Linked DNA regions of Homo sapiens. The protein of the gene in region 6 interacts with the protein of the main gene of each other region in a pairwise test. Each region holds a gene or a part of one and is shown on either strand. Other genes may lie near its edges.

Region 1 (4,302 bases), on a different chromosome or scaffold from region 6:
CATTGATATGTTTATACCACTTTTATTATATGCCAACTTCCAATATTCTTCTATCTATTTCTTGGCTGTCTCTCTGGTTCCAGTATCTTTCTCAGGCCAAGGATTTTAATCTAAAATTATATGCAGAATTTTTCATGAGACTGGACATCTCTACTTTTTCTTAGAGGGTGCAAGCTTTACTAGGATTCTAAAATAGAGAATACAATTCAAAAAAGGTTAAGAAGTAGTCTTCTTTAAAAAATGGCTACTCAACACTAATGAGAAAAAAAACTCCTATACAAAGGGGATTAAAGCCTTAAGTATTGTAAGGGAGGCTATGGAATCTCACCTAGAGAGCTTTATTTACGTAACAGAATATATTTTTTTCAGCTTGGTTAGTTATAGCCCTACTTGGAAGCAGGGAAATAACTATTTGAAGGTTCCTTATAGCAAAATAAAACCCCATAAAAATCACAGAATTTAGAGCTAGAATGAACCCTAGATATCATCTCATATAAATTTTATTTTTGGATGAGCAAACCGACAATTAAATAACTTGGCCAAGATCAGAATGCTTATTTAATGGCAGACCTGGTAATGAAAGCTTGGACCACTACACTCACAGTATACTGTTCCTAACTATACCACATTGTCTCTACTCAACAGTGGAGAAGGCGCAGCAAGGGGGACTGGAGAGGAAGCAAAGAGAGAAGAACAGAAAGGATATAGCAATAGGGAATCAAGGAAAGCACATGCTGAAAAGATATTTAAAGCCTCATATATTTATGCAAAGAGAAATGTGAAAACTATTTTTAATCCCAAGTACAATTCTATCTTGGCAAAAATATGCCAGTGGGCTCAAATATACTCTTACCCTTTACCCAAGCAATCCCCAATCCAAAGAAATTATCCTGAGAATTCAGTTGAAAAATAAAACTATCGTGCCCAAATGTTTACCTACAAAGGCAAATGAAAACCAAAATCCTTAACTATATTTTATAAATTAGAAATTCTGATTCATCAAGTTGACTGAACATTATGAAAGAATTAAAAAAAAAAAATGAAAACACAACCCCACATGCATGGTACAATTATGCCCAAAAATTATGCATAAAAACACAAAAGAATACACAAAAAGTACAAGTTTGATTTATGAGCAGTGGGATCATGGCTGCTTTTTTCAACTTAAATTCCTCCAGAAAACTAAGACATTAATATGACTGCTGTAACTGTTGAAACAATATAAACATTTAGATAGAGTAACTAATAGTTATCTCATACTCTCTTTTCCATGACTATAAACATATACTCATGGGGGGTTGGTTATGAATTACAAAGATGAGATCACACACTATTTCTCTGCAAATTATTTCCACTAAAAATATTTCAATATTAACCCACCCCAAGTCAACAGTTCATTTCTTTTAATGATGATGCAATATTCCCTATGAATATATTATGATTTATTCCAACCATTTCCTTATTCTTATTAATGGACACTCAGATTGCAATTTTATTTTTTGCTAGTACAATGCTATGAAAAGTGTCTTTGTAATTTCCCCCTACTATTGATGCTTTTCTTCCTATAGGACAGATTCTCAGAAGTGGGACTGCTAGCTCAAATATTCATTGTATTTAACAGATAGTGAGGTGCCTTTCCAAAATAACTCTACAGTTTTAAATTACCAAAAATAATGATTAATTCTTTTTCTCCACATCCATCCTAACAGTGGATATAATGACTTTTTGTTTTTTTTTGCCATCTCGATGAGAAATATCTAATTTTAAAATATGATGCCACAGAGTTGTATGTAACATTTCTACATATTTCTGTTAATCTCTTCTTTTTTTTTGAGACAGAATCTTGCTCTGGTGCCCAGCCTGGAGTGCAGTGGCACAATCTTGGCTTACTGCAACCTCCGCCTCCTGGGTTCAAGATATCTTATGCCTCAACCCCCCAAGTAGCTGGGATTACAGGTGCGTGCCACCACGCCCGGCTAATTTTTTATTTTTAGTAGAGATGGGGTTTTGTCATGTTGGCCAGGCTGGTCTTGAACTCCTGGCCTCAAGTGATCCACCTGCCTTGGCCTCCCCAAGTGCTGGGATCACAGGCATGAGCCACTGCGCCTGGCCTTCCTTTAATCTCTTCTACATCTTTGCTTACTTTTGTTTTCTGTTTCTCAATCAGTGTTTCAACTGGATTTACCTGTTTTATTGGTCTGCTTAAACAATCTAGATTTTATTTATCCTTTCTATACGTCAGTTTTCTACTTAATTAATTTGGACCCACTTTTTGCTCGTTTTGTTATTTTTCTAACTTTCTAAATACTCATTTTTGTTTCTTTTAAAATAAAATATACTATAAACTAGATTCTAACCTCTTCATATACTTTACAGCAATTCAAGATCATGCCTAATATCTTAGTCATTACTGGAGCTGTCCAATTTCTGCATAGTTCTAGTTTATATCACTGGTACTATAAAGGCAGAAAATCAACTGAATGCAAAATGTGGGTTAGGAAGCAGTTAAATGCAATATCAATTATCAAATAGGTTGTAATAATCTATTCTTTGAAACCTCTCCTCTGATATACTGCTCAATATTTTTAAATATTACTCACTTGCTGCAAACCCTGTGTTCCAGAAACAGGTACTTGCATGATGGTTTGACCTTGTCCACCAGGGACAGCCTGGACCATGATGGGTTGGCCAGTTGATGTGATTAGCTGGCCTCCACTGACCTGCACCATTAATGGCTGCCCTTGGACCTAGAATGAAATAAAATAAGAACAATGAAATAACATAAGACACAAAATGGTTTTTACCAAAAGACAATCACTGGAACTATTCTGCTGCCTTGCTAGAAAAGGAAAAGGTAGAAAAGACTAAGAAAATATATGTCTCAAGTCCTCAAGTTATCTTTAAATATCTATGAATCCTGTTACTAAATGCCAAGCTCAATACTTTAAGGTCAGACATAATGGAGAATATCCAGAGTCTTTGAGAAGTCTCAATAGATATAAGGCATTTGTCACCAAACACGGGCTAAATCCATGACAAACATTTAATCATAATGGCAAGGTTAGTTGCCTGTTTAAACCAATCCAGGAATGGTCTGTAGTGAAGGCTGGAGAGAAGGCAATGAGAGGGAAAGGTGATGGTGGTGATGGTGGTTGAGTACAAATTCTAAATAAAGTGAAGAAGGTAAATCAAACTGTACCCAGCAATGACTCTAGGAGGCTGGGTAGCAAGCAGCTCTGGAAGCTTATGTAGAGGATGACCCTTTTTTCCCTACAGTCTCTCAAGCTAAAATGAAATGTCAAATGTATACCTTTATCCTGCTCATTTTACTCTGTGAATTCTAGATATGTTTGTTGTTTAAACTCACTACTAAAGATTTCTTAAAAGCACTTTCTGGTCAGTTTGCAGTCTCCATGGTGGAATTCCTCACTGGCCTCTATAATATCCACATGGTTATTTTAGCTTTATCAGAAGCAACAACAAATATTGAAATTACACAGAGCAGTCAAGTGTACAAATTTCAAGCTCCTATGAGTAAACAGACTACTGTAGGAGCCAGGTCACTACAAGTGCTCTGTCACATCTTAAGTCCCAATACAAAAATACCTAATAGAATGCTTTCTGGAAGCACTTTAAAAGTGCTTTAGAAGTAAACTGTAATGATCCATGGAATAGTCCAAAATTTTCATTTTCAGACTCTATCTTTGACAGAAATTACTTAGAACAGAATATTCATGACTGAAATATTCACACTTAATGAAAGTATGTGCAAGTAACAGCAATTAGTTAACAGATCATTCTGTCCTAGATGAGTAGGTTAGATAGTAAGGTCCTCCTACAATCACCACCACCACCGCCGCCACTGCCACCACCACTAATGTATTAGAATCACCAGGAACATTGAAATCCTAAGTTTTGTTAAACTGTCCATTGAGAACCTTTACTTTACTTTTTTAAGGACTTTACAGCCTGACTCTCTCATGCTATCTCTTTCCCTTATTTCCCCATTCCAAATCAAATCCCCTTTGCTACACCAAATGCTTGCATATTCTGTATCAAGAAAGATTTCTCAGAATACATATAGCAAGAATAACCAAAATAACTATTTAAAATTCTCCCAAAATAATCAGATCCCTAGAGGAAAGGTTTCTATTATTTCCATAAAGTGTTTCCACTTCTTTTAAATAAAATCTATGTAAGTAGGAAACACAAGTTTTAAGATACAGCTATTAATAATTTTCTATCTATTCATCATCTTAATTTCCTCCCCAATTGATGTGCTATTCGTGCACATGATAAATG
Region 2 (4,302 bases), on a different chromosome or scaffold from region 6:
CCATATGCGCTAAACTTAGTAACCAATCCAGCCTTCTCAACAACCCTGGGAGGTTTTATTCACTTTACAGATAAGGAAGAGGCACAGAGAGCTTCAAGTGTTTGTCCGAGGCCCCAGACCTACTTACGTGGCAAACTTAGGACTCGAATCCAGGCAGTCTGACTCCAGAATTCAGGCTTTTGATCAACTACACTACCCTGACTCTCCTCCATTTATACTCTTCTTTGAGAATTTCATCCACTTTTGTGGCTTAAATGATGATTCGGGTGCTGTCTGCTTCGCTCCCTGCCTGGCCTGCTCTCCCCAGCACCAGTGGCACATCCCCTGCCCTCTGCGCATTAGACGCACAAGGGTACCAAAAACACAACATGTCCAAACCAAACTCTGCTTCCTCCAAATCCACTCAGCTGACACACTGACATCAACTAAAATCCAAATCCATCACCATATACTGTGACTTCTAACTCCCACCTCTGCTATTGATGCCCCTTTCTCTTTTCCCACTGTTAAGGCCCCCGTCCAGGCCATCCCACCTCCCCACACCCCTGGCTGCTTTCAATCCTGAAGCCAGGCTAAGCCACAACTCAAACATGATGACATCATACGCTCACCCAAGCACTCAAGCCTGCCACTCCTGGCCCTGAGAGGCTCTCCCAGGCCACTCCGCCTCCAACACCCACACGCACGTGTCTGGTGCTCTCCCCTCTTCTTCAGCTGACCGCGAGGCCGTTCTCACCCCGGTCTGGGGAAACTCTCTGCGCCCCTGCAGCACCCTACATGTTACCTGTTCCCCTGTCTGCACCTCCAGCTGAAACTCTGACGGAAGGAGGAACTGTTTCTCAGTTACACCACTTGTATATATGTTCATTATGTTCTAAGAGCTAGGCTCAGCTTTAAATGGGTCTTTATTATTCTCTCTTCCAGGTAAGGAAACCAAGGCCCAGAGAAGCAGCTTGACTGAGGCCACCACTTTAGGGAGCGGTAGAGCCAGACTTTGAATCCATGACCACCCGACGTGTCCTGGCTCACTGCCTCCCAGTGCACCTGCAGAACTAGAGTAGGGCCAGCACGCACAAGTCACGCACAGGTCACGCAGCCAATTTCTGGCAAATGAACTGAGCCTTCAGTGTTTTAAAGGAAAAAACCACTCTACTATACCTTTTAAAAAGTCAGGTTGGGCGTGGTGGCTCACACCTGTAATCCCAGCACTTTGGGAGGCCAAAGTGGGTGGATCACTTGACGTCAGGAGTTTGAGACCATCCTGGCCAACATGGTGAAACCCTGTCTCTACTAAAAGCATAAAAATCAGCCAAGCGTGGTGGCATACGCCTGTAGTCCCAGCTACTCAGAAGGCTGAGGCATAAGAATCACTTAAACCTGGGAGGCAGAGGTTGCAATGAGCCAAGATCACACCATTGCATCCAGCCTGGGTGACAGAGCAAGACTGTCTCAAAAATTAAACAAAAAAAGAAAAAGTCAGTCTAGCTTTACTGCTCTCCAATTACAAAATGATTGGAGTGACAATTCAAACGTGATCTCAAAAGTACCTACCATTTACTGAGTCCGAGCTCCATGCCAGATGGATAAACAGGCATTTTCCACATTTCACCTAATCCTCACGACCACCAAATTAAACAGGTAACTTAACTAGAGCCACAGATCTAATGAGGATCAGGGCCATGAGTCAAACTGCGTCTGATTCTCAAGTCACTGCTCCCAAAATAGTACAATTAACTCAATGAGGTAAGTAAACATAATGCTGCAACTTATATTGAGTCAGTCTTTAAGCAGCTAACATTTACCTTTAAACAACGGAAACTTAACAGGATAAATGTTGGCATTGCACTTAGTTTACTGCTCAAAGCAATGTTTTAAAATCTACCTTCCACAGGACACTCGAACGGCTTTGTGCCTAGGTGGGTTATGCTGTGGCCTTTCAGATGCTCTGCTCTGGTGAATGATTTCCCACAGCCCTCGACAGGGCAGGTAAACCTCCGGTCATCGTCATGTTTCCTGCCAGACAGAAAAATAAAGGAGCTGTGATTCCTCACACAACTCACCATAATTCTTTAAAATTCTACAAAACATACCAAAACACAAACTTTGCATTTACAAAAATGATCAGTACATTTCGGAAAATCTTAATTCTGTCTTTAATCCATGTGAGCAGATTTGCAATTTAGCTACCCCATAAAAATTCTACTTTAATGACTAAGCTGACCCCAGAGTCACACATCAAACAATTAATGCTACTTCAATCTAATATAAGCTAATCTAAGAACAGTGGAGTCCCAAATGTATTGATGAAGGTGTTTCTATTGTTTAGAAACCCCAATGATCAACAAGCTTTCCGAGCGACAGACGGTCGTGAGAAATGTGCACAGAGCATCAGCTGCAATGCCAAAAGGACTCTCTTAAGCCAACTTGTAAAGACTGTGTCTTTTCCTAAGTGACATTTTTATATTAAATCCTCAGAGCCCAGCTGTGCAAGTACAGAAAAACCACTGAATCTCTCCGAGTCTCACTGTAAAACAGGGAGAATAAGAACATTAGCTTTGAGGTTGTTGGGAAGGTAGAAGACACACATGTAAAGTGCTGAGTGTCACCTGGACACAGTCTCCAGGGTTGTCATTACCACCATGAAAACTTGTAATTACATGAAGAAAGCTTATTCTACAATGTTAAGTTAAAAAAAAAACCTGGAATTGTTTTTTTTTTAAGAACAGAGTATGCCAATTTAGCTTTTTTTAAAAAAAGTATACACAGAAAAAACTGACTTCAGGTGATGAGATTCTGAGCAATTTTCTTTTTACAGTTTTCTGAATTTTCCAAATCATCAACACTGAGCTCCTTTTTTAACAACTTAAAAAATGTCTACAGATATTTCATTCATTGGTTTCTGCTGCTGACAAACCACTCATTTTCAAACCTGATAATGCAAACCAAAATGTAAGGATTACCTTCTGTGCCTTAGAAGTTTGGACATGCTGGTGAAGGTCCAGCCACAGCTGTCAGAGTCACAAATAAATGGTCTTTCACCTTATAAAAGAAAAAATTATACAGCATAAAATTTACAACTCCAACAGCTACGATGAAGACAAATCTTGGGTCCAAATGCTGTGCGTTCCCTAGCTCATTACCTGTATGGCTCCGCAGGTGAATTTTCAGCCGACAGGCTTTATCATACTGCTTGCTGCACCCAGGAAAGGAGCAGGAAAAGAGCTCTTGTTCCCTGAAGTGGGCTCGGTTATGGGAAAACAGGGCACTCACTGTGATAAATGTCTTCTCACAGCCTGAACAAGGAAAACACAAACCCTGCTCAAAGCGTGGCAAAAATTATACAACATAGCTAATGCTAGTCACACCCACCAGACCCTGTTCACACTGAAGCAGACAAGGGAAAACATGACTCAGAAGCACTCTCTAAAAAGGGAAGACCATTAATGCTTGGCTTTGTGATCACCACAGGAAGGCAGCTAATGGCAGCCAATAGGCACACGCTGGCCACCTGTTGCAACATGACTTGGAGATGGAGCAACCGATAAAGAGAAAGTCCTCCGTTCACAGCCATCTACTGGCCGGCTCCGGAGCACTGATCCTGCACACACACTGAGACCCAAGAACCCCATGAGAGAAATCAAATACTAAGGAACAAGATTTTGTCTGGTAGGGTTGATCTTTGAAAGGCTACAAATCATCCTACTAGCCAGGATTTTTCACCCCTTGGGGGTGATGCTGCATCCTCTACATATCCAAATTTCCTCCCTGACACCCTCCAACTGCCAGCCCTGTCCCTTGCTGTTTGGATTCTTTTTCCTTTCGCAATTTCCTTAGGTTCCCTGCTTTGTAATCTTCACCTCAATCCTAACCCCTGGCCAAAGCAGCTAAGCCTCAACAATTCCACAGCAATACTTCTCCTCCGACAGAAACATTCAGGGCTCCAACAGGGTGGAAAACATGAGGCTGCAGGATGTTTAACAGGAGTCTTTGCTGCAGCTCCTCTTGGAGCCTTTAACGAGATACTATCATGCCTATGAACTGCCACACAGATGTACATGGCATAGCACTGCCCAAAAGTATCAGCCCAAGGAACCCTACTTTCCCCAGCAACATCTAACTCAGAAATGCTGATCTTTGGCCTCAATCTGGTCCCAAAATACCTCCAGGGTATTTTGGGCTTCGGTGTGTTCACACACTTGGTCATGTAAATCTGAACACAGACTCTCTCTGCCTTGGCAAGAACCCCCCACACCCCCATAGATAATTACACCCTTTGGTTCTCCCTCTGCAATCTCACCTGCT
Region 3 (4,200 bases), on a different chromosome or scaffold from region 6:
ACACCATACGCACATACATCATGCCTGCATTTACCCATCGATATGATCATACATACATCATACACATATTCATCCACCCATCTAATACAAACATGCACACGTACAGTTATACATATATACACCATACGCACATATATCATGCATACATTTACCCATCTATATGATCATACGTACATCATACACATTTTCATCCATCCATCTAATACAAACATGCACACATACAATTATACATACATACACCATACACACATACATCATGCCTGCATTTACCCATCTATATGATCATACATACATCATACACATATTCATCCACCCATCTAATACAAACATGCACACATACAATTATACATACATACACCATACGCACATACATCATGCATACGTTTACCCATCTATCTGATCATACATACATACATCATACACATATACATCATACATACATTCACTGGCTCATCTGATCATACATGCAAGTGTACATGCATCATACACGCATACATCATACATGCATTAATGGAGCCATCTGATCATACATATATACATCATACACATTCATCCATCCATCTGATCATACAAACATACAATTATACATACATACATTGTACACACATACATCATACATATATACACATTAATCCATACATACAATCATGCAGACACACATTTCATTTATCCATCTAATTATATATACATGCGTACACTCATATATACACAAATAAACCCATCCAGTCATCCAATCATGCATGTATGCGTACATACATGATACCTACAGGCATTTATCCATCTAATGCAAACATACATACAATTATACATGCATACACCATACACACATGCATCATGCATACATTTATCCAGCTATCTGATCATACATACATCATATACATATTCATCCATCTGATCATACAGACATACAAACATACAATTATAGGCACATACATTGTACACACATACAGCATACATAGCTACACACTAATCTATCTAATCATATGTGCATACAATCACACAAACATACATATTTCATTTATCCTTCCAATCATACACACGTGTGTATGCACATATATGTAACATCATACCTACAGCATACAAACATACACGCATACAATTATACATACATACACCATACACACATACATTATGTAGACATCCATCTGATCATATATACATACCTCACACATATATATGTCATACACACATTCACCAGTCCATCTGATCATACATACATCATACATAGACTTATCCATCTGATGATACATACAATTGTACACACATACATCATACATAGATTCATCCATCTTATACATATAATTATATAAACATAGGTCATACACACATACATCATACATGCATTAATGGATCTATCTAATCATACATACATCATATGCATGTTCATCCATCCATCTGATTATACAAACATACAAATATACAATTATACACCCATACATCATACACACATACATCATGCATACATATACATTAATCCATCCAGTCATACCTATATACAATCATACTAACACACACATTTTATTTATCAGTCCAATCATATATACATGCATACACTCATATATACATAAATACACCCATCCGGCCGGGCGCGGTGGCTCACGCCTGTAATCCCAGCGCTCTGGAAGGCCGAGGCAGTAGGATTGCCTGAGGTCAGGAGTTTGAGACCAGCCTGGCCAACATGGTGAAACCCCATCTCTACTAAAAATACAAAAATTAGCCCGGTGTGGTGGCACACGCCTGTAATCCCAGCTACACAGGAGGCTGAGGCAGGAGAATCACTTGAACCCAGGAGGCGGAGGTTGCAGTGAGCCAAGATCATGCCACTGCACTCCAGCCTGGGCGACAGAGCGAGACTCCATTTCAAATAAATAAATATACCCATCCATCCAATCATGCAAGCATGTATACATACATGTGCACATACACCACGTATACATATATCATGCATGCATACATTCATCATCTATCTAATCATACCTATGTGCGTTCATGCAAACACACATATATACATGTATCCATCCCATCATACACACAGACACTCATATATACACATACATACACTCATCCATGCTTCCAGTCATACATGCACACGCACACCTACAGTCACACATACATACATTCATCTATGCATCCACCCACCCATCCATCCATCCGTCTATTCAGTCAGTTAATAAACATGTATTAACCATTTTCTACTACTCTGAGTGTCCGTCAGTGGAATTGACATTCTAGTTGGGAGAGACAGAGTCTAAATAAACAGACTCTGAGATACCATATGTAAATCATATGCAATTTTAAATGCTGTGTTCAGTGTGGGTCTCACTGATGGATAAGCAAAGACTCGAACAAGGCGATGGGGCCTGCTGTGTGGTTATCTGGAAATAAGCATTCCAGATAGAGGAAACTGAGTGCAAAGGCCCAAGGCAGGAGGGTGCTTGGCAGGCAGGTCAGGGCCAGCGCAGCTGGAGAGGAGCGAGGGGCAATGAGAGCCATGAGGCGGTCAGTGGGATGGTGGGGAGAGGGATTATTGTCCCCTTTATAACTTTGGCTGTCACTCTGTGATCTCTCCCTCCTCCCATCACTCTTTGTTCCGGGCAGGCCTCCTGAGATCACAGGAAGTGTCGGGAGGGGTCCAGGGACCCACCACCCCACCTGAACCCTGGACTCAGGCAGATTGATCTTCAGAGCCACCTCCTCACGGGCATAGACGTCTGGGTACTGGGTCTTGGCAAACAGTGCCTCCAGCTCCTCCAGTTGGCTCCGGGTGAAGGTGGTGCGCTCCCGCCGCTGCTTCCTGGGGGCGCCTGGGGTGGGATGGGAAACAGGACCCTCAGGTCATCCACATGGGCTGGTGTGAGGCCCTGAGGCTGGGTGGGATGCCAAGAATTCCATCCTGGTTGCCATCTGCCTAAACTAAGGATGGAATACACATTCCCTGCCCTTCTACACCTCACTGTGTGCCTGGCACTCTGTGGCTCATGCCTGACCCCAAGGCTTTAGCTCAACAAGGAGGTGTGCGAGTCGTTTTTCCCTCTTCTAAACTTTCTTATGCACTAAGACATAATCAGTTGAAGCATGACATTGCTGACATTCAACCGTTTCTAGCCTATAAAAGTAGCAAGTCTGGGCTGGGTGCGGTGGCTCACGCCTATAATCCCAGCACTTTGGGAGGCTGAGGCAGGCAGATCACAAGGTCAAGAAATTGAGACTATCCTGGCCAACATGGGGAACCCCTGTCTCTACTAAAAATACAAAAAATTAGCCAGGTGTGGTGGTGCATGCCTGTAGTCCCAGCTACTCGGGAGGCTGAGGGAGGAGAATCGCTTGAACCCAGAAGGCAGAGGTTGCAGTGAGCCAAGATTATGCCACTGCACTCCAGCCTGGTAACAGAACAAGGCTCGGTCTTGAAAAAAAAAAAAAAAAAAACAAGAGCTAAAGAATAATGCTACAAATAACTGAGTACTCACTTCTCTTAAAAATAAGGCTTTACAAAAATTGGCCGGGCATGGTGGTGTGCGCCTGTAATCCCAGCTACTTGGGAGGCTGAGGCAGGAGAATCACTTGAACCTGGGAGGCAAAAGTTGCAAAGAGCCAAGATCGCGCCATTGCACTCCAGCCTGGGCAGGAGCGAAACTCCGTCTAAACTGTGTCTCGAAAGAAAAAAAAAGAAAAAGAAATAAGGCTTTGCAGGCCAGGTGCAGTGGCTCATGCCTGTAATCCCAGCACTTTGGGAGGCTGAGTCAGGCGGATTATTTGGACCCAAGAGTTTGAGACCAGCCTGGGCAACATAGGGAGACCCAATCTCTACAAAAAAAAAAATAATAATAATTTTTTCTATGTTTTGTATAATCCAGATCCTGCAAAATCTACAAAAACTTAAAAAAGTTAGCCAGGCATGGTGGCGTGCACCTGTAATCCTAGCTATTTGGGAGGCCAAGGCAAAAGGATCGCTTGAGCCCAGGAGTTCGAGGCTGTAGTGAGCTGTGATTGCACCATTGCACTTCAGAGTGGGCAACAGAGTGAGACCCTGTCTCAAAAATAAAATTAAAAAAAAAAAGTGCCCCCCGGGCCTAGGCACAATGGCTCACACCTGCAGTCCCAGCTACTCAGGAGGCTGAGGTGGGAGGATTGCTTGAGCCCAGGAGTTCGAGGCTGCAGTGAGCCGTGACCACCACCACTGCACTCCAGCCTGGGTGACAG
Region 4 (4,302 bases), on a different chromosome or scaffold from region 6:
TAGCCTGGACAACAAGAGCAAAACTCTATCTCAAAAAAAAATAATAATAAGACCCCATCTCTATAAAATAATATATATATTTTTTAAGACAGTCTGGTTCTCTCGCCCAGGTGGGAGCGCAGTGGAGCGATCTCAGCTCACTGCAACCTCTGCCTCCCGGGTTCAAGTGATTCTCTTGCCTCAGCCTCCCGAGTAGCTGGGATTACAGGCACGTGCCACCAATCCTGGCTAATTTTTGTATTTTTAGTAGAGAAGCGGTTTCACCATGTTGGCTAGGCTGGTCTCAAACTCCTGACCTCAAGTGATCTGCCCACCTCGGCCTCCCAAAGTCCTAGGATTACAGGCATGAGCCACCGCGCCCGGCCCAAAACAATTTTTAAAAATTAGTCAGGTGTGGGCTAGGCACAGTGGCTCACGCCTGTAATCCCAACACTTTGGGAGGCCAAGGCAGGTGGATCACGAGGTCAGGAGATCAAGACCACCCTGGCCAACATGGTGAAACCCCGTCTCTATTAAAAATACAAAAATTATTTGGGCGTGGTGGCGTGCACTGGTAATCCCAGCTACTCAGGAGGCTGAGGCAGGAGAATCGCTTAAACCCAGGAGGTGGAGGTTGCAGTGAGTCCAGATTGTGCCACTGCACTCTAGCCTGGGCGACAGAATGAGACAATGTCTCAAAAAAAAAAAAATTAGGTGTGTTAGTAGATGCCTGTAGTCCCAGCTACTCGGGAGGCTGAAGCAGAAGGATAGCTTGAGCCCAGGAGGTCAAGAAGGCTGCAGGTAGCTACGACACTGCATGCCAGCATGGGCGACAGAGTGAGACTCTTCCTCAAACCAAACCAAACAAACAAACAAAAAACCACAAGCCGGGCGCAGTGGCTCACGCCTGTAATCCCAGCACTTTGGGAGGCCCAGGCAGGCAGATCACCTGAGGTCAGGAGTTCCAGACCAGCCTGGCCAACATGGAGAAACCCCACCTCTACTAAAAATACAAAATTAGCCAGGCTTGGTGGCAGGCGCCCGTAATCCCAGCTACTCGGGAGGCTGAGGTAAGAGAATCAGTTGCTTGAGCCCGGGAGGTGGAGGTTGCAGTGACCATGCCACTGCACTCCAGCCTGGGCAACAAAAGCGAAACTCCATCTCAAACACACACACACACACACACACACACACACACACACACACACACTAGGTGACTAGCAAAAGTGTCCTGGGGACTACTTGAGCTTGCATGGTCAGGCAGGTGGCTCTGAGGGGCCAGAACCTTGGAGAGTGGAAGGATGAAGAGGAAGGAGACGTGGGCAGGTTGAGGCGAGGAGGTGGGTCGTGCTCCAGGCCTGGCTGTCCCATTTGCAATAAATGAAGGAACAGACGAACAATGCTACAAAGACTCAATGTCTCAAAATGACTTTTGGGAGAATGTCTTGTACCAATCTCCCTCAAAATATGATCCATTTTCTGCATGCTCCATCTTGCCACATTAGGGGTTCTCCCCACACTAGCACCTGAGGCATGAGATGCCCCTATCAGTTGCTCCAAACAGTGATTTTTCACTAGGATGGAGGATAGGGGAGAATGACAAAGATGTCTTTTAAGAAAGAGGGCCGGGCATGGTGGCTCACGCCGTAATCCCAGCACTTTGGGAGGCTGAGGCGGGCAGATCACAAGGTCAAGAGATCGAGACCAGCCTGACCAACATGGAGAAACCCCGTCTCTACTAAAAATACAAAAATTAGCCGGGTGTGGTGGCACACGCCTGTAATCCCAGCTACTCGGGAGGCTGGGGCAGGAGAATTGCTTGAACCTGGGAGGCAGAGGTTGCAGTGAGCCAAGATCACGCCACTGCACTCTAGCCTGGGCAACAGAGCAAGCCTCCATCTCAAAAAAAAAAAAAAGAAAAAAGAAAAAGAGCCGGGTGTGGTGGCTCATGCCTCTAATCCCAGCACTTTGGGAGCCTGAGGCAGGCAGATCACCTGAGGTCAGGAGTTTGAGACCAGTCTAGCCAACATGGTGAAACCCCGTCTCCACTAAAAATACAAAAATTAGCCGGGTGTGGTAGCATGCACCTGTAATCCCAGCTACTCGGGAGGCTGAGACATGAAAATCGCTTGAACCCAAGAGGTGGAGGTTACAATGAGCTAGGATCGCACCACTGCACTCCAGCCTGGGCAACAAAGCGAGACTCAGTCTTAAAAAAAAAAAAAAAAAAAAGGCAACCCAACTTAAAAATGGCCCAAACATTTGAAAAGACACGTTACCAAAGAGATGAATAGCTAAGAAGCTCATGAAAAACTGTCCAACATCATTAGTTATTAGAGAAATGCAAATTAAAACCAAAATAAGACTGGGAACAGTGGTGTGCACACCTGTAATCCCACTTATTCCAGAGGCTGAGGCCCGAAGATTGCTTGAACCCAGGAGTTCCAGGGTGCAGTGAGCTAGGATCGCACCATCGCACTCCAGCCTGGGCGACAGAGTGAGACCTCATCTCACAAATAAATAAATAAATAAAAACACCAAATGAAGACACCAGCACACACCTATAAGAATGGCTAAAACTAAGGACTGGCCATACCAGGTGTTAGTGAGGATGAGGAGGAGCTGGAACTCTTGAACATTGCTGGTGGGGATGCAAAATGGTACAGCCACTTTGGGAACAAGCTTGGCAGTTTCCTAAAAATTAAAACATGGCCAGTCTCAGTGGCTCACACCTGTAATCCCAGCACTTTGGGAGGCCGAAGCAGGCGGATCCCCTGAGGTCAGGAGTTCAAGACCAGTCTGGCCAACATGGCAAAACCCCGTCTCTACTAAAAATACAAAAATTAGCTGAGTGTGGTGGCGCATCCTTACAATCCCAGCTACTCAGGAGGCTGAAGCAGGAGAATCACTTGAACCCAGGAGACAGAGGTTGCAGTGAACAACTGCTGGGCAACAGAGAGAGACTCCATCTCAAAAAAAAAAAAAAAAAAAAAAAAATTAAAACATAGCCAGGCGTAGTGGCTCACACCTGTAATCCCAGCACTTTGGGAGGCAGAGGTGGGAAGATTGCTTGAGCCCTGGAATTCAAGACCAGCCTGGGCAACATGGCAAGACTTTGTCTCAACAAAAGCACAGAAAAAATAGCTGGGTGTGGTGGCATACGCCCTTGTAGTACCTACCAGCTACTTGGAAGGCTGAGGTGGGAGGATCACCTGAGCCCAAGGAGGTAGAGGCTACAGTAAGCCGTGATTGCACCACTGCACTTCAGCCTGGGCAACAGAGTGAGACCCTGTCTCAAAAAAAAAGAAATTTAAACACATCTACCATATGAACTAGTCATTCTACTCTTAAGTATTTACCCAAGAGGATGAAAATATACGTCCACACAGAGACACATATCCAGATGTTCACAGCAACTTTATTTGCAGTTGTCAAAATGGAAACAACCCAACAGTCCATCAACCAGTTAATGGATAAACAAACTGTGTCCGTCCATACGAGATTGTATGGACGGACACAGTTTGTTTATTTTCACTCCACAGTGAAAAAGAACAAATTTCTGATACAACAACACAGATGAACTTCAAAAACATTATGTTAAGGAAAGAAACCAGACGTAAAGGCCACATGTCTGATTCCATTCTTACGAAATTTCTAGAAAAGGCAAAGCTACAGAGAGTGAAAGCAGATCAGGATGTCCCCGGGGCTGTATGTTGGTGGAGCAGGGTTAATTGCAGACGAGCTTGGGGGAACTCTTTGGGGTGATGGAAGCATTCCAAAAAACTGGATTGTGGTGAAGGATGCACAACTCAGTAAATGTACTGAAACTTAATGACCTGGGTTGAGCACAGTGGTTCACACCTGTAATCCCAGCACTTTGGGAGGCTGAAGCGGGCAGATCACTTGAGGTCAGCAGTTCAAGATCACCCTGGCCAACATGGCAAAACCCCGTCTCTACTAAAAATACAAAAATTAGCTGGGCATGGTAGCATGCACCTGTGGTCTCAGCTACTCGGGAGGCTGAGGCAGGAGAATTGCTTGAACCCAGGAGGCAAAGGTTGCAGTGAGCCGAGATCACACTACTGCACTCCAGCCTGGGCAACAGAGTAACTCTATCTCAAAAAAAAAAAAAAAAAAAAAAAAAACTTAATGATAAATTAAAATGAGTGAATTGGCTGGGTGCAGTAGTTCACGCCTGTAATCCCAGCACTTTGGGAGGCCGAGGCGGGTGGATCACCTGAGCTCAGGAATGCCAGACCTGCCTGGCCAACAGTGAAACCCTGTCTCTACTTAAAAAATACAAAAATTAGCCAGGCATGGTGG
Region 5 (3,852 bases), about 17 Mb from region 6:
ATTGGATAATAAGCATATTATCAAGCAATACAGTGTTGGGCAATGCAGAAACTCTAAAATGTAAGAAACATAGTGATGACTACAGGCCGAAAACATTGGGTTCATTGCACCTGTTCCAACTGCATCTATATTAAGGTGCAAGCTTGGCTGTACATTACAGTCACCTGGGAAACTTAAAAAAATCCTCGTACTCAGGCTGCATGCCAGATCAGTTCAATCAGAATCTCTGGGGCAGGGGAGTGGGGTGAGAGTGGGATCCAGGCACCAATATTACTTTAAAAACCCCCCCTAGTGATTCCAATGTGCCGAATGTGCAATCAAGTGTGTGAACCTGTGCTACAGAACTAGAGAAGGCAAAGAAAATGTTGTAGCTCCCAGCCTTTCAGCCAGGCACCAGAGCTCACAGGCGGAGACCAGGAATGGAAGAATTAATGTTAACAACCACCATTTACTGAGTACTACATGCTAAGGACCATATACTCCTCTTATTTAATCCTTGTAGCAATCTCTGTAAGGTAGGTAAAATTATGAATCCACATCTTGAAGATGAGAAATTGACACTCAGAGATATTAAATAATCTAGCCAAGGCCACAGAGCTAATTAAGTGGTAGAGCTGGGATTTAAACTTAAGTCTTCTGACAGTGATGTTTCCTGGTTATTATGCCACATTGGCCAGGGAGAGATCATATGCAGAAATCATACAGTTTTAATACCTTTTTTTCTACTGCCCTGCCAATTTTACATAGGCTGCAAGGGAGCCCAGATAAATGAAATTCTGTGTCTAAAACCAAATAATTCGCTGGTGGCCGGGCCAGTACCAGAATACTTAATCTTATCATTATTCCACCATACTTTGCTGCTTCTCTTAGCTTTTCTGCAGAAACAGGACCAATCTGCGTCATAGCTAGAAATAAAGCCATGGCCAGAAGCCCTCCTGTAACCATGCCCTTCTCAGCACTGTGTACATGCTTGTCAGGTGGCACTCCTTCCTTGGAGTGCCAGTGAACATTCCCTTCCCCTCTTTCTCTGTCTCTGCAGCCCCTACCCGTGCCTGTGGACCATCAGCAATGGTGCCGGAGGCCCCAGTGGGCCAGGCCCGGAGGTGCACGCCAGCACCCCAGGAGCATTTCTCCTCGGAAACCCAGCTGTGACTTCACCCCCTTCTGTGCTCTCCACCCAAGCACCCACTTCGGCTGGTGTGGAGGTTCTGGGGGAGCCCTCGCTAACCAGCATTGCTGTGTCCACCTGGACAGCAGTGGCCTCGCATCCCTTCGCGGGCTGGGGTGGCCCAGGAGCGGGTGGGCACCATTCTCCTTCCTCACTGGATGGTTAAGCAGGATCCTAGGAGCCTCTTTGCACAGCGATCCTTCCATGTGTAGAGTGCTTAGAAACCCCATCAACTGATCTAGTGAGTCAGACTGTGGAATCTCCCTTCCCACTAGCTGGAGGTGGAGGTGGGTTATTACAGAAGTCATACTGGGAGAGGGTTCAGTTTGGATGATGCTAGTTAGATCATTTGCATCTCTCCACCATTTTCTTCTGCACTCCCATTTTCTCTGCAGCTTATTCTTGCCATGCTTAGGTGACAGAAGTTTGTTAAGTACCATCCTTGTGCCCTGCCTCTTATTCTCAAATCGTTCTGGAAAGCCTCACTTCCTTTTCTGTGGAGAAGGTGCAAAGCTGTTAAATGAGCTCAGAGTTTACCTAGCTAAGGCCACTGCTTCCTGCTTTGTGAAGCCTGGAAAGTATGTGTGGCCACAGGGCTCAGGTTCACACTTCTGCTTTGAGACCAGGATGGGGTGTAAGCCATAGAGTAAGGTTAACAAAAAGAATAAAGCTAATCATGTATTACAAACAGCAGTGTGCCCAGACTTGTGGAAATGAAGTCATGTCACTCCTCTGCTCAGAAACCTTCAATGGTTCACCATTACCAGTGGAATGAAGTCAATTCTCCTCACTATAACTGGGTGTGGTAGTTTAAGCCTATAATCTCAGCCCTTTTGGAGGCCAAGGTAAGAGGATCGCTTGAGGTCAGGAGTTCGAGACCAGCTTGTGCAACAAAGTGAGAGCCTGTCTCTACAAAAAATAGTCATGCACACAAAATTAGCTGGGCATGGTGGCCTGTGCCTATAGTCCCAACTACTTAGAGGAGGATCGCTTGATCTCAGGAGGTTGAGGCTGCAGTGAATTATGATTGTGGCATTGCACTCCAGCCTGGGTGGTAGATCAAGGCTTTGTTTCATTTGAAAAAAAAGAAAGAAAGAAAGAAAGAAAGAAATCCTACTACGAGCGATCACACCATCTGGCCTGAAACCACTTCCCCAGCTTAGGTCCCTCTGTTATCCTGTTGGCCTCCTATGTATTGGTCAAGGCAGGCATCTCTGTTCTCTGAACATTCATTGCACTTTCCCACCTCTATACCTTGCCTGTGCCTTAGTGTCCTCTTTTTTCCAGTTCACCTGTGCGAATCCGACCCACCTCCCAGAGCCTGGCTGAAACGTCACTCCCTGCATCCAACATCTGATCTGCTGAGATATGTCTGATCTATCTCTGCTCGCTGTTCTCCCGTTGTTTTTGCCTCTGCCATAGAGCTCACCTCATTTTGCCTTGTATTTTTGTTACCTGTGAGTGTGTCTCTCCCTATTAGACTGTAAGCCTCTCGAGGGTGAGGCCTAGCCTTCTTGTCTTTGTAACCCACAGCAGCTGGTACTGTGCCTTGCCTATTGTAGGTGCCCAATAAACATTTGCTGAACTGAATTGGTGTAATGTGCATGTGTGCTACAAGGACGGTGTGAAGTGGCTGGGGGGCAGATCTCAGAGACACATGCCCCATGACACATAGGTGCATCCGTGTGGGAGCCTAGGAACATGCTGGCTGTTAGTTACACGGGCTTCTCATCTGAGGCACCACCAATTGTCAGTGAATGACAATCATATATGGAGACAGGGTGTGTTAGAGTGGTTATTCCCAAATACTGGTTCTTGGATCCCCTAAGTCAGGATCACCTGGAACAGGGGACCCTTGCTAGACATACAGATTCGTGGGTATACCCCGTACCTGTTGGATCAGAATCTTTGGGGCTGGCGTTCAGGAATCTGCATTTCAAACAAGAGCTCCAGGCATTGGCCCTGGGCTAGGTTTGGAAACTCCTTGCCTAGAAGAGAGAAACAGGATGATAAATACTCCAGGAACCTTATTTCAGATGAGTTTTTACCTCTGCCCCAGCCAAGGTCATTGCTATAACCCGTGAGCAGAATCAGTTTCGTGAGTCTTCCTCCTCTTTTTCTACCTACTACTGGATGTGCTAATAACCTTGGGAGTGAGGTTTCCAGACCTGGGTGATGAGCAGTTCTCCAAACATTGACTTTAGACTGCACTGGCTGAGCAGCCCTTCTCAGGGCCGCCACTTGAGGAGTCTAAAGTTCCACTTGGAGCCTAGCATTGGCTCAGCTGCTTCCACCACTATTCCATCAGCTGAACCCGTGCAAACCCAGCCCACTCCAAGGCTTAGTCTGAGGGGTCCAAACATGGTACTATTGAGTCCTTGGCTCTTTCTATAGCGAAAGGTCCTTTAACATGCTATGGTGTCACAACTGGTGTCACTGCCCAATATTTCTGTGCTGTTCTGTTTTTTGGATCTCAGGAAACAATACTACTCCAGCTACGTGGTGTCCAGGGAAGACTCATTGCCTGACTTCAGGTTGCCTGGCCAGCGCTCTGGGCCACTAGTTGGCGTGTGAGTGGCCAAGGCACAATGGATCCATGCATTTGGAAAGCTGTCTGGTCAGCATGCCCCTAAGGCAGCATTGTTCCTGTTTCCCAGTCCCTTTACAATACCATTAGAGGTCAC
Region 6 (4,302 bases):
ATTAATGAAGGTAAATGGCAGAAGCCACTTAAGCTGGATCACAGGTGATATCACTTACACACATGTGACCTCTCAAAGCTTCAGTAACACGAAATTGAGCATTACATCGTGGACATATTTTCCGTCCACCATCCTGGAGGTCAAATACTGGGATGGAAGAGGTCACTGAAAGAAGTGAGAAGAATTGATAAGATTAATACAATGACACTGGAAAAAGATTACTGACCTTTTGGGAAAAAGTCAAACACTCCCTGAGAAGTATATAAAAGGGTAAGCAAGCATGAGAGATCACTATGGTTTTTGTTTGTTTTTGTTTTTTTTGAGACACGGTCTCTCAGTCTGTTGCCCAGGCTGGAGTGCAGTGGCACGACCACAGCTCACTGCAGCCTTGACCTCCCTGGGCTCAAGATCACTATGTTTGAGGCTTCCTTTTACTGTTCTAACTCTAGGCCAGGGGTCAGCAAACCACAGCACACAGATCAAATCCAGCCCAGCTACCAGTTTCTGTTTGGCCCATAAGCTAAGAATAATTTGTATGTGATTTTTTTGTTAAGGTTTTTGTTTTTTTTAATCTTGCAGAACTGAAGCTATATCCAATAAAAACCTCCTCACCATTCTCCCCTCGCCTCCACCCCGGCAACCACAATTCAACTTTGTCTCTATGAATTTGACTACTCTAGGTACCTCAAGTAAGTGGAATCATATGGTACTTGTCCTTTTGTGACTAGCCTATTTCACTTTAACATAATGTCCTCAAGGTTCAACCATGTTGCAGCACATGTTGTAGCAGAATTTCCTTTCTTAAGCCTGAACAATATACCATTGTATGTGAATACCACATTTTATTTATCCCTTTATCAGTTGATGGACCTCTGTGTTGCTTTCACCTTTCAGCTATTGTGAATAATGTTGCAATGAACATAGGTGTACAAATACCTGTTCTAGTCCCTGCTTTCAATTCTTTTGGGTATAGAATGGAATTCCTGGAGCATACAACAATTCTATCATTTTTAACTTTTTGAGGAACCACCATACTGTTTCCAAAGTGGCTGCATAATTTTACATTTCCACCAACAGTGCGTAAGGGTTCTGCTTTCTCCACATCCTCAACAATATTTGTTATTTTATGGTTCTTTGATAGTAGCCATCCTAATGGGAGTGAGACGGTACCTCATTGTGGTTTTGATTTGCATTTCCATAATGATTAATAACACTGAGCACCTTTTCATGAGCTTATTGGCAATAACTTTCTTTGGAGAAAGGTCTATTCAGTCCTTTGCCTACTTTCCTACTTTTTTTTTTTTTTTTGAGATGGGGTCTTTCTCTGTTGCCCAGACTGGAGTGCAGTGGCACAATCTCGACTCACCACAACCTCTGCCTTCCAGGTTCAAGCAATTCTTGTGTCTCAGCCTCCCGAGCAGCTGGGAATACAGGCACACACCACCACGCCTGGCTAATTTTTGTATTTTTAGTATAGACGGGGTTTCACCATTATTGGTCAGGCTGGTCTTGGACTCCTGACCTCGTGATCCACCTGCCTTGGCCTCTCAAAGTGCTGGGATTACAGGCATGAACCACCACGACCAGCGAGTCCTTTGTCTATTTTTTAAAAAGGTTGTTTGGGAGTTTTTTTGTTGTTGAACTGCACAAATTCTTTATATATTCTGGATATTAACCCCTTATTAGATACATAATTTGCAAATATTTTCTCCCATTCTGTGGCTTCCCTTTTCACTGTGTTGACAACGTCCTGCACAAAAGTTTTAAATTTTGATATAATTTAATTTACTCATTTTTTCTTTTCTTGCGTATGCTTTTGGTGTCATATCCAAGAAATAGTAATCACTGTCAAATCCAGTATCATGAAGCTTTTTGTCCTATAATTTTTCTAAGAGTCTTATAGTTTTAGTTCATTTAGGTCTTTGATCCATTTTGAGTTAATTTTTGTATTTATTGTAAGGTAAGATCCAACTTCTTTTGGACATGGATATCTAGTTTTCCCAACACCATGTTTTAAAGGTTTTTACTTTTTTTGAGACAGGGTGTCGTTCTGTTGCAGTGGCATGCTCATGGCTCACTGCAGGCTCAACCTTCTGGGTTCAAGCCCAAGCCATCCTCTCACCTCAGACTTCTGAGTAGCGAGGACTGCAGACATACACCACCACGCCTGGCTAATCTTTTTTTTTTTTTTTTTTGTAGAGATGGGATCTCACCATGTTGCCCAGGCTGGTCTCAAACTCCTAGGCTCAAGTGATCCTCCCGTCTTGGCCTCCCATAATGCTGGGATGAGGTGTGAGCCACTATACCTTGCGGTTTTTATTTTTAAATGGTTGAAATAAAAGAATAAAACTTTTCGACACATGAAAATTTTATGAAACTTAAATTTCAGAGTCCATAAATAGTTTTTAGTGGAGCACAGCCATGCTCATTCGTTTATGTATCTGTGGCTGCTTCCCCACCACAACAGCACAGTTAATAGCTGCAACAGAGGCTATATATTGTGCACAAAGCCTACAACTTTACTACTAGGCCCTTTACAGAAAACATTTGCCGACCCCTGCTCTAGACCACTGAAAACCCTCATGCTCATCATTCTCAACCTGAAGATCTCTCTACCAAATCCTAACTTTAAAACCTTGCTCAGAAATCCATCTCTTCCATGAAGTTATCTTTCATTATCTCACCCATCTTTAATCAATCAATTTCACTAATCTCCAAAGCACAATTACACACATAATTTCTTGGAGCTGATTCAGTTACACTTTTTGTAAGTGGCTTTCTCCTTACTAAAGTTTCTGTAAGAACAAACTACAGCAGCTGTATTTTATTTTATTTTTCTATTTCTGAGTATAAAGCTCTGATACAACAAACACTTTATTAATGTTTTTGAATGACTGGCTGCTCAGAGTCTTTCAGGTTATTGTACCTTTCATTGAAGACTCAGGTCCGCTGGTTCTTTGAGAGCCATGAGCAGAGCTGTTGTTGGACACCACCACTGGCCCAGGACTCTGGCCCAGGGAAGGGATGGTGTTAAGGGTATTCACCAATTTGGCCACTTCATTGCTATTTTCGCCTGTAACACCAGGTCGCTTCACAGTGACAAAGCTGGCAATGCTCACTGCAGGTGGAGAGGGGAAGGAGGGAGCTACGGTGACCAAGTGATAATCATCTGTTCTCCACCCACCATCCCAACCTGGCTCTGCCATCTCCTCTTCCGAAGCCTTACCTAGCTTGGGATTCGTGGTCTGGTTTGACTGGCCTGGAGACTGAACAGCTAGTTGCCCCAGTGAGGTTGGCTGTGTGGCAGTGGGAGTGGTAGAAGTGCTGGGAGTGGACTTGGTCTGCTGGGACTGGGACTGTGGGACGGTGCTTCGAATGGTAAGAGTGGCCGGGATGACGGTGGTGAAGGTGTTGGTGGTGGGCCTCACAGGCATTGTGGAGCCTGGCCTCACAGGGGTCATCTGGGAGAACACTTGTGGAACTCCAACTGTCGGCTTAACAAACTGGGTACCTGGGGCTTTAAAAGAGAGACAAAGTACCAGATCTTGGTCAGTGAGCTCACCTATAACACATTCTCCCTGCCTTTACTGGAAAGATTATTTCCCCAAACTGATGGATGATCATCAGAGGTTTCCAAGAGGAGTATAGATTCTAAAGACTAAGAAAGCACAAGGTGTCCATGTTGACAAAATAACCTGGGCAGCCTAAAAACATTAAGTTAAATAAGACTCCCATCAACTCCTCCTAAAACACCTTATCACACTGCCTTTTTAATTCTAAGAATACAATCAGTGGCTTGACCTCGGTACTGGAAGAAAAGAGTGGGAAGCAATATGGGTGTATATAGGCCAAATGGCAAACCTGGTCCTGAAAAAAGAAATCAGTCTTTCTCAGAGTACTAAAGGAGTCTTCCATCCTCTTCTATCAACTCAGAAGACAGACTATGCCATTCTACTAGGATGTCCCAAAGAGGAATGTCTCCTGGCTCAACTGTAGACAATTCCACTGAGAAAAATAAAGAAATGCCAGGGTAAGCTGGTCAGACTTAAACCCCTATGGGCTACGAGAACAAAAAACAAAACCTTAGGAAGACAAGCTACAGAGGTACCCTTACAAATAGCTAAATTAAGATACTCTTTTTTGGTCTGAATTGTAGTAAACTTATACATGCTAAATAGAGCAATGGAAAATTCTAAGATTTTAAAAAAATTATCCTTCTCAGAATCTTAAAAAAAAAAAAAACTATCTAGCAGAATCTTAAAAAAAAAAACTATCTAGTCATTGACAGTATTTATCCATAAA
Region 7 (3,978 bases), on a different chromosome or scaffold from region 6:
ATAAGATAGGAAAACTTCAATAATAGGCAGTTTATGTCAGCACATGTAACGGATGACTTTTTGTTGTGGAAACTTGTTAACACAAAGGATAAATTTATATGGCTAGCTCTAGGAAAAGCAGCTCAGGGATTTTTAAATAACAAAGTCAAGCATACATTTTTATATAATTCTTTTTTTTGGCAGGTGATGCCCTATGTATTCTCCTTCAAAATGCCTCAAGAGCAAGGACAGGTAAATGGATATAACAACACTGCCCATAGAGATGGCTACATACACTCTCCACAATGCTTTCTATTTCTAGCTCTGACTCCTATAGCAGGGCTATAAAAACCTATATAATGATATCACTGTCTAGATAACATCATTGCTGGGCTAGTATCAGTTTGTTGATGTTGGGCTCACTTAACAACTCCTTAAGGACAGGCAGCTAAGTAGAGTCTCCAGGACCCCTGAATTTCCAGGGCATTGCTATGTTGAGAGTAAAAGAGCTCAGTAAGCCCCAGGTCATGTCCTCTCTGCATCCAAAGTGCTGGAAGTTGGGAAAAACTCAAGAGAAATACCATGGGCTGACTTTATCCAAATTTAAATTTTGCTTCAGAAGGAGATGCACTAAGCTGATAATATATGATATGATGTAGAGATAAGAAACACTTGCCCATGTTATTTGGCTGTTATGAAATTCTGCTCAAAACATTTTAAGCTTCTTATACATTTCCAATTTGAATCCATATTACAATCAAATGGTAATTTTTTCCATTAAATAGGATAATCTTTTAAAAATGAATGCAAACTAGTATAATCATCATATTAATATGGAAAACCCTATAAATATCAGGATTATTAATTTTACAATATTCTGGGTTCAAAGAAACAGTATTATAAATAAATTATATTACTCATCACAGAATATTGGCCTTTTCATAAAAAGTTACAGCATTTGACTCTACTGTAATTATAACTAAATAACTTTGTCCCACATCCACTCCCATTATAAAACAAAAGTTACTTCTAGACATTATCTCATTCTATGACATAAGCATTTAAAGAATTAGATGTATAACTAGAATTACTTCATCTTAAGAATCAAGAAACCTAGTCTTAATGAGATCAAATTCCTCATCCCATTGAAAGTAAATAGCTGAGTTGGAATATAATTCTCCACCCCTTCTGTCTCCTTTAACCATGAAACCAGTAGCTCTCCATCCTGGCTTTACATTAGAATCTCTGGTGTTTGAAAATTACAGACGTCTGAACCCTACCCCAGTGAATCAATACCCCATGAATAGATGTTAAGTTTGGTCATCTTCTAAAATGCTCAAATGTGAGTTTGATTCTTAGCCAGGATTAAGAATGCTTGCACAAAATATAATCCTCCTGAAACCCTAGTTGTTTTTTTTAACTTCATGTCTAATACAATCTCTTACTTTATGCAAATAAAAACAGCATACAAAAATTAACATATGTACTAAGATTCTCATTTTCTATGAACACATACACAAATAAACAGACACAGACATATAAGTAGAAGGCAATGATAATATAAATGGAAGCCACATGGTAATGTAGGTGGGGAAGTTTCAGATGATTTCATTTGTTACTTGTCTATGTCTTGATTTACCAAATATCCTAAAATATATATGGATTATTTTAATAAAGTAGCAATTCTTAAAGGCAATACATTCATAGCATTTCATTTATTATGGCAGAACATCTAATACCACATTCTGCAGAATGATGATTCTCAAAAATATAGGGTAAGTGCTACATAGGCTATCTTTCACTTAGGTATTTGCAAAGTAATTTGTATATAAAGTTTCTAAGATGTCCTTTGAAAAAAAAAAAAAGCTCTTCTGCTTAGTTCAACCCACTATTTCCTAAATGTGTTTGCCCAAGCAACCTTAAAAACCAAGTCCAGTATTACCTGGGATACAAGTTGTTTCCAAAGTTTGGGAAGGGATTCTTCATCTATTTGCTTTGTATTTAATCATATAAAGCTGCTAGACATAAAACAGCTTTTAAATAAAATTGACATTAGAAGATAAAAAGTATGTCCTATGCTGATTTAATGGAATCTCTTGTATCCTTCTCTTTTTACAAGTAGATGTTTCAATACTATCCAGTTTACATGGTCCTACCCTGGGAACAACCTCAGCAAACAGTTCCAAGGTCACCTCAACAAACAAGACAGCAACAGTATGAGGAGCAGGTACTGCAAATGTTTTATTTTAATCCTACTAGTTCCACTTGAAAATAGAGAAAATAAGGTATATTACCATAGAAAAAAAGTTTCTGAGTATATTTAATGCAAACACTCAACAGCATGAAACAGGTAGGCATAAGAGGGTAGGTATAGTGTTCTCGGCTATAAATCATTTGTGTAAACTTATTTGGTAATATTCCAGGGCTGGATTTTTAGCCAATGAAATCAGTAAGTGGACTTCAATAGAATCAAGGCCAAAAAGCTGAATAACCTCGAAAAGTGAAGTTTTCTCACATTTAAAATTTACTAGCATCCACCTTTCCACATATGTGTGTGTGGTTACTATTTAAAAATAATAAATGGCAAAAATATTAGCTACCTTGATGAAAGATATATCTGATCACTGGATTTTGAGATACAATTAGATACCATTATATTAAATTTTGTGAAACTGCAATAAATTTTTAGAATTCTAACATAAATTCAGGTGGCTCATATATTATTAACATCCTTCCTGTTAGAATGAAAATGTCTTTTTTTTAGTTTAATCATAACTCTAAAACCTGGCATTACAAATTAGAGAAAACTCAGAATTATGCTTTAAAAAACTGGTAGTATTAATTCTAATTGTCATGTTGCTTTAAAGGGAAAGAGAGAGTTTTATCCTAGAAATGATATGGTATTAAAAAGATTCTTGTTAATTTAACAATAATTAATTTTTAGTTACTGGAACATATAAACTTTAAAAATGCTTTTAACTTATATAAAAAGATATATAAGTTTAAGTAATCATTTACTGCAAACTTACGACAAGAATAATCACAGAAAATATAATACATTTTTTAAAAAATCTGACAGATACCATTCTATGCTCAATTTGGATACATTCCACAACTAGCAGAACCTGTAAGTAAATGCATATTTTTCATTAAAAATATTTTGAAACTACTTCCTTCATTGTCTACTAAATCTATCAATGCCCTTCAGCCAAAGATGACCAGGAGCGCACCTCTAATTGAACAAAATTGTATGTATCCACTCAGTACAAGGAGGAGAACACACACGTGGGGATTCTTGGGTGTCTTAATAGGAAAGTATTAGAATGACTTCTCACATGATTTGGGCTTCTTTTAGGTAATTTGGGGAAGATTGCAAAGAAGTGGTTGTTCACTCTGCAGTGGCTATTCTCAAAAGTAGGGTAGCTCTATGATTATTTTAAAAGCTCATTTCTCTAAGGCAAGGATAGTGGAGCAAGGTGAAAGCTTTAATGGGTAAAGAAGCATCAGTCGCTCATATTAGCCAAGATGTGAGAACACCTGGTATTTTCGTAACTTGTATGGTGACCTTACTTCAGACAAAATTTTGAAATTGTCTTGTTTTTTCCACCCCTTCTGATGTTGGTGTTCTGTAGAATTCTTTATGCTCAACAGGTAAGTACCTGGTCCTAGTAGAGAATGTTAGAAAGTAGCACTTTCAGAACAGAAGCAGAGGCGAGATGTCAAGCCAGTTCTCTAATAGCAAAAATTAAACTATTATTTCTGTTTTTAGCAAAATAATTTAAGAAGTTTGGGAGTGTTTTACTACTCTGGTACTCTGGGTGGCCAAAGAGCATATTTTCAACGATCACTGATTTAGACTTTTTAAAACTTTTTGTGTTTTTAGGCTATATCAGGAGGACAGCAGCAACTAGCTTTTGATCCCCAACTAGGCACAGCTCCTGAAATTGCTGTGATGGTAAGATTCCTTACAACACTTTGCCAGCTACTGGAAATCAACAA

The links.
Region 1: the proteins of POGZ (region 6) and NFYA interact in binary tests that used the Homo sapiens proteins (3 or more experiments, as listed by UniProt).
Region 2: the proteins of POGZ (region 6) and ZXDC interact in binary tests that used the Homo sapiens proteins (3 or more experiments, as listed by UniProt).
Region 3: the proteins of POGZ (region 6) and CRX interact in binary tests that used the Homo sapiens proteins (3 or more experiments, as listed by UniProt).
Region 4: the proteins of POGZ (region 6) and KLHL26 interact in binary tests that used the Homo sapiens proteins (3 or more experiments, as listed by UniProt).
Region 5: the proteins of POGZ (region 6) and TBX19 interact in binary tests that used the Homo sapiens proteins (3 or more experiments, as listed by UniProt).
Region 7: the proteins of POGZ (region 6) and ODAM interact in binary tests that used the Homo sapiens proteins (3 or more experiments, as listed by UniProt).

The regions. Positions count from the first base shown.
Region 1 is NC_000006.12:41,082,491-41,086,792, reverse strand, and holds part of NFYA (nuclear transcription factor Y subunit alpha), read right to left. Parts: intron 2,748-4,302; coding exon 2,601-2,747; intron 1-2,600. UniProt on the Homo sapiens protein: Component of the sequence-specific heterotrimeric transcription factor (NF-Y) which specifically recognizes a 5'-CCAAT-3' box motif found in the promoters of its target genes.
Region 2 is NC_000003.12:126,469,013-126,473,314, forward strand, and holds part of ZXDC (zinc finger protein ZXDC), read right to left. Parts: intron 3,294-4,302; coding exon 3,141-3,293; intron 3,040-3,140; coding exon 2,961-3,039; intron 2,014-2,960; coding exon 1,883-2,013; intron 1-1,882. UniProt on the Homo sapiens protein: Cooperates with CIITA to promote transcription of MHC class I and MHC class II genes.
Region 3 is NC_000019.10:47,834,847-47,839,046, reverse strand, and holds part of CRX (cone-rod homeobox protein), read right to left. Parts: intron 2,805-4,200; coding exon 2,653-2,804; intron 1-2,652. UniProt on the Homo sapiens protein: Transcription factor that binds and transactivates the sequence 5'-TAATC[CA]-3' which is found upstream of several photoreceptor-specific genes, including the opsin genes.
Region 4 is NC_000019.10:18,639,226-18,643,527, reverse strand, and holds part of KLHL26 (kelch-like protein 26), read right to left. Parts: intron 1-4,302. UniProt on the Homo sapiens protein: May play a role in endo(sarco)plasmic reticulum (ER/SR) mitochondrial signaling. May be part of the ubiquitin-proteasome system (UPS) and affect ubiquitination and degradation of target substrates in cardiomyocytes.
Region 5 is NC_000001.11:168,311,669-168,315,520, forward strand, and holds the end of TBX19 (T-box transcription factor TBX19), read left to right. Parts: intron 1-1,039; coding exon 1,040-1,334; 3' UTR 1,335-2,758; downstream 2,759-3,852. UniProt on the Homo sapiens protein: Transcriptional regulator involved in developmental processes. Can activate POMC gene expression and repress the alpha glycoprotein subunit and thyroid-stimulating hormone beta promoters.
Region 6 is NC_000001.11:151,424,897-151,429,198, forward strand, and holds part of POGZ (pogo transposable element with ZNF domain), read right to left. Parts: intron 3,518-4,302; coding exon 3,227-3,517; intron 3,146-3,226; coding exon 2,927-3,145; intron 166-2,926; coding exon 59-165; intron 1-58. UniProt on the Homo sapiens protein: Plays a role in mitotic cell cycle progression and is involved in kinetochore assembly and mitotic sister chromatid cohesion.
Region 7 is NC_000004.12:70,198,396-70,202,373, forward strand, and holds part of ODAM (odontogenic ameloblast-associated protein isoform 1 precursor), read left to right. Parts: intron 1-183; coding exon 184-231; intron 232-1,706; coding exon of another isoform or gene 1,707-1,715; exon of another isoform or gene 1,716-1,754; intron 1,755-2,101; coding exon 2,102-2,206; intron 2,207-3,058; coding exon 3,059-3,106; intron 3,107-3,862; coding exon 3,863-3,934; intron 3,935-3,978. UniProt on the Homo sapiens protein: Tooth-associated epithelia protein that probably plays a role in odontogenesis, the complex process that results in the initiation and generation of the tooth. May be incorporated in the enamel matrix at the end of mineralization process.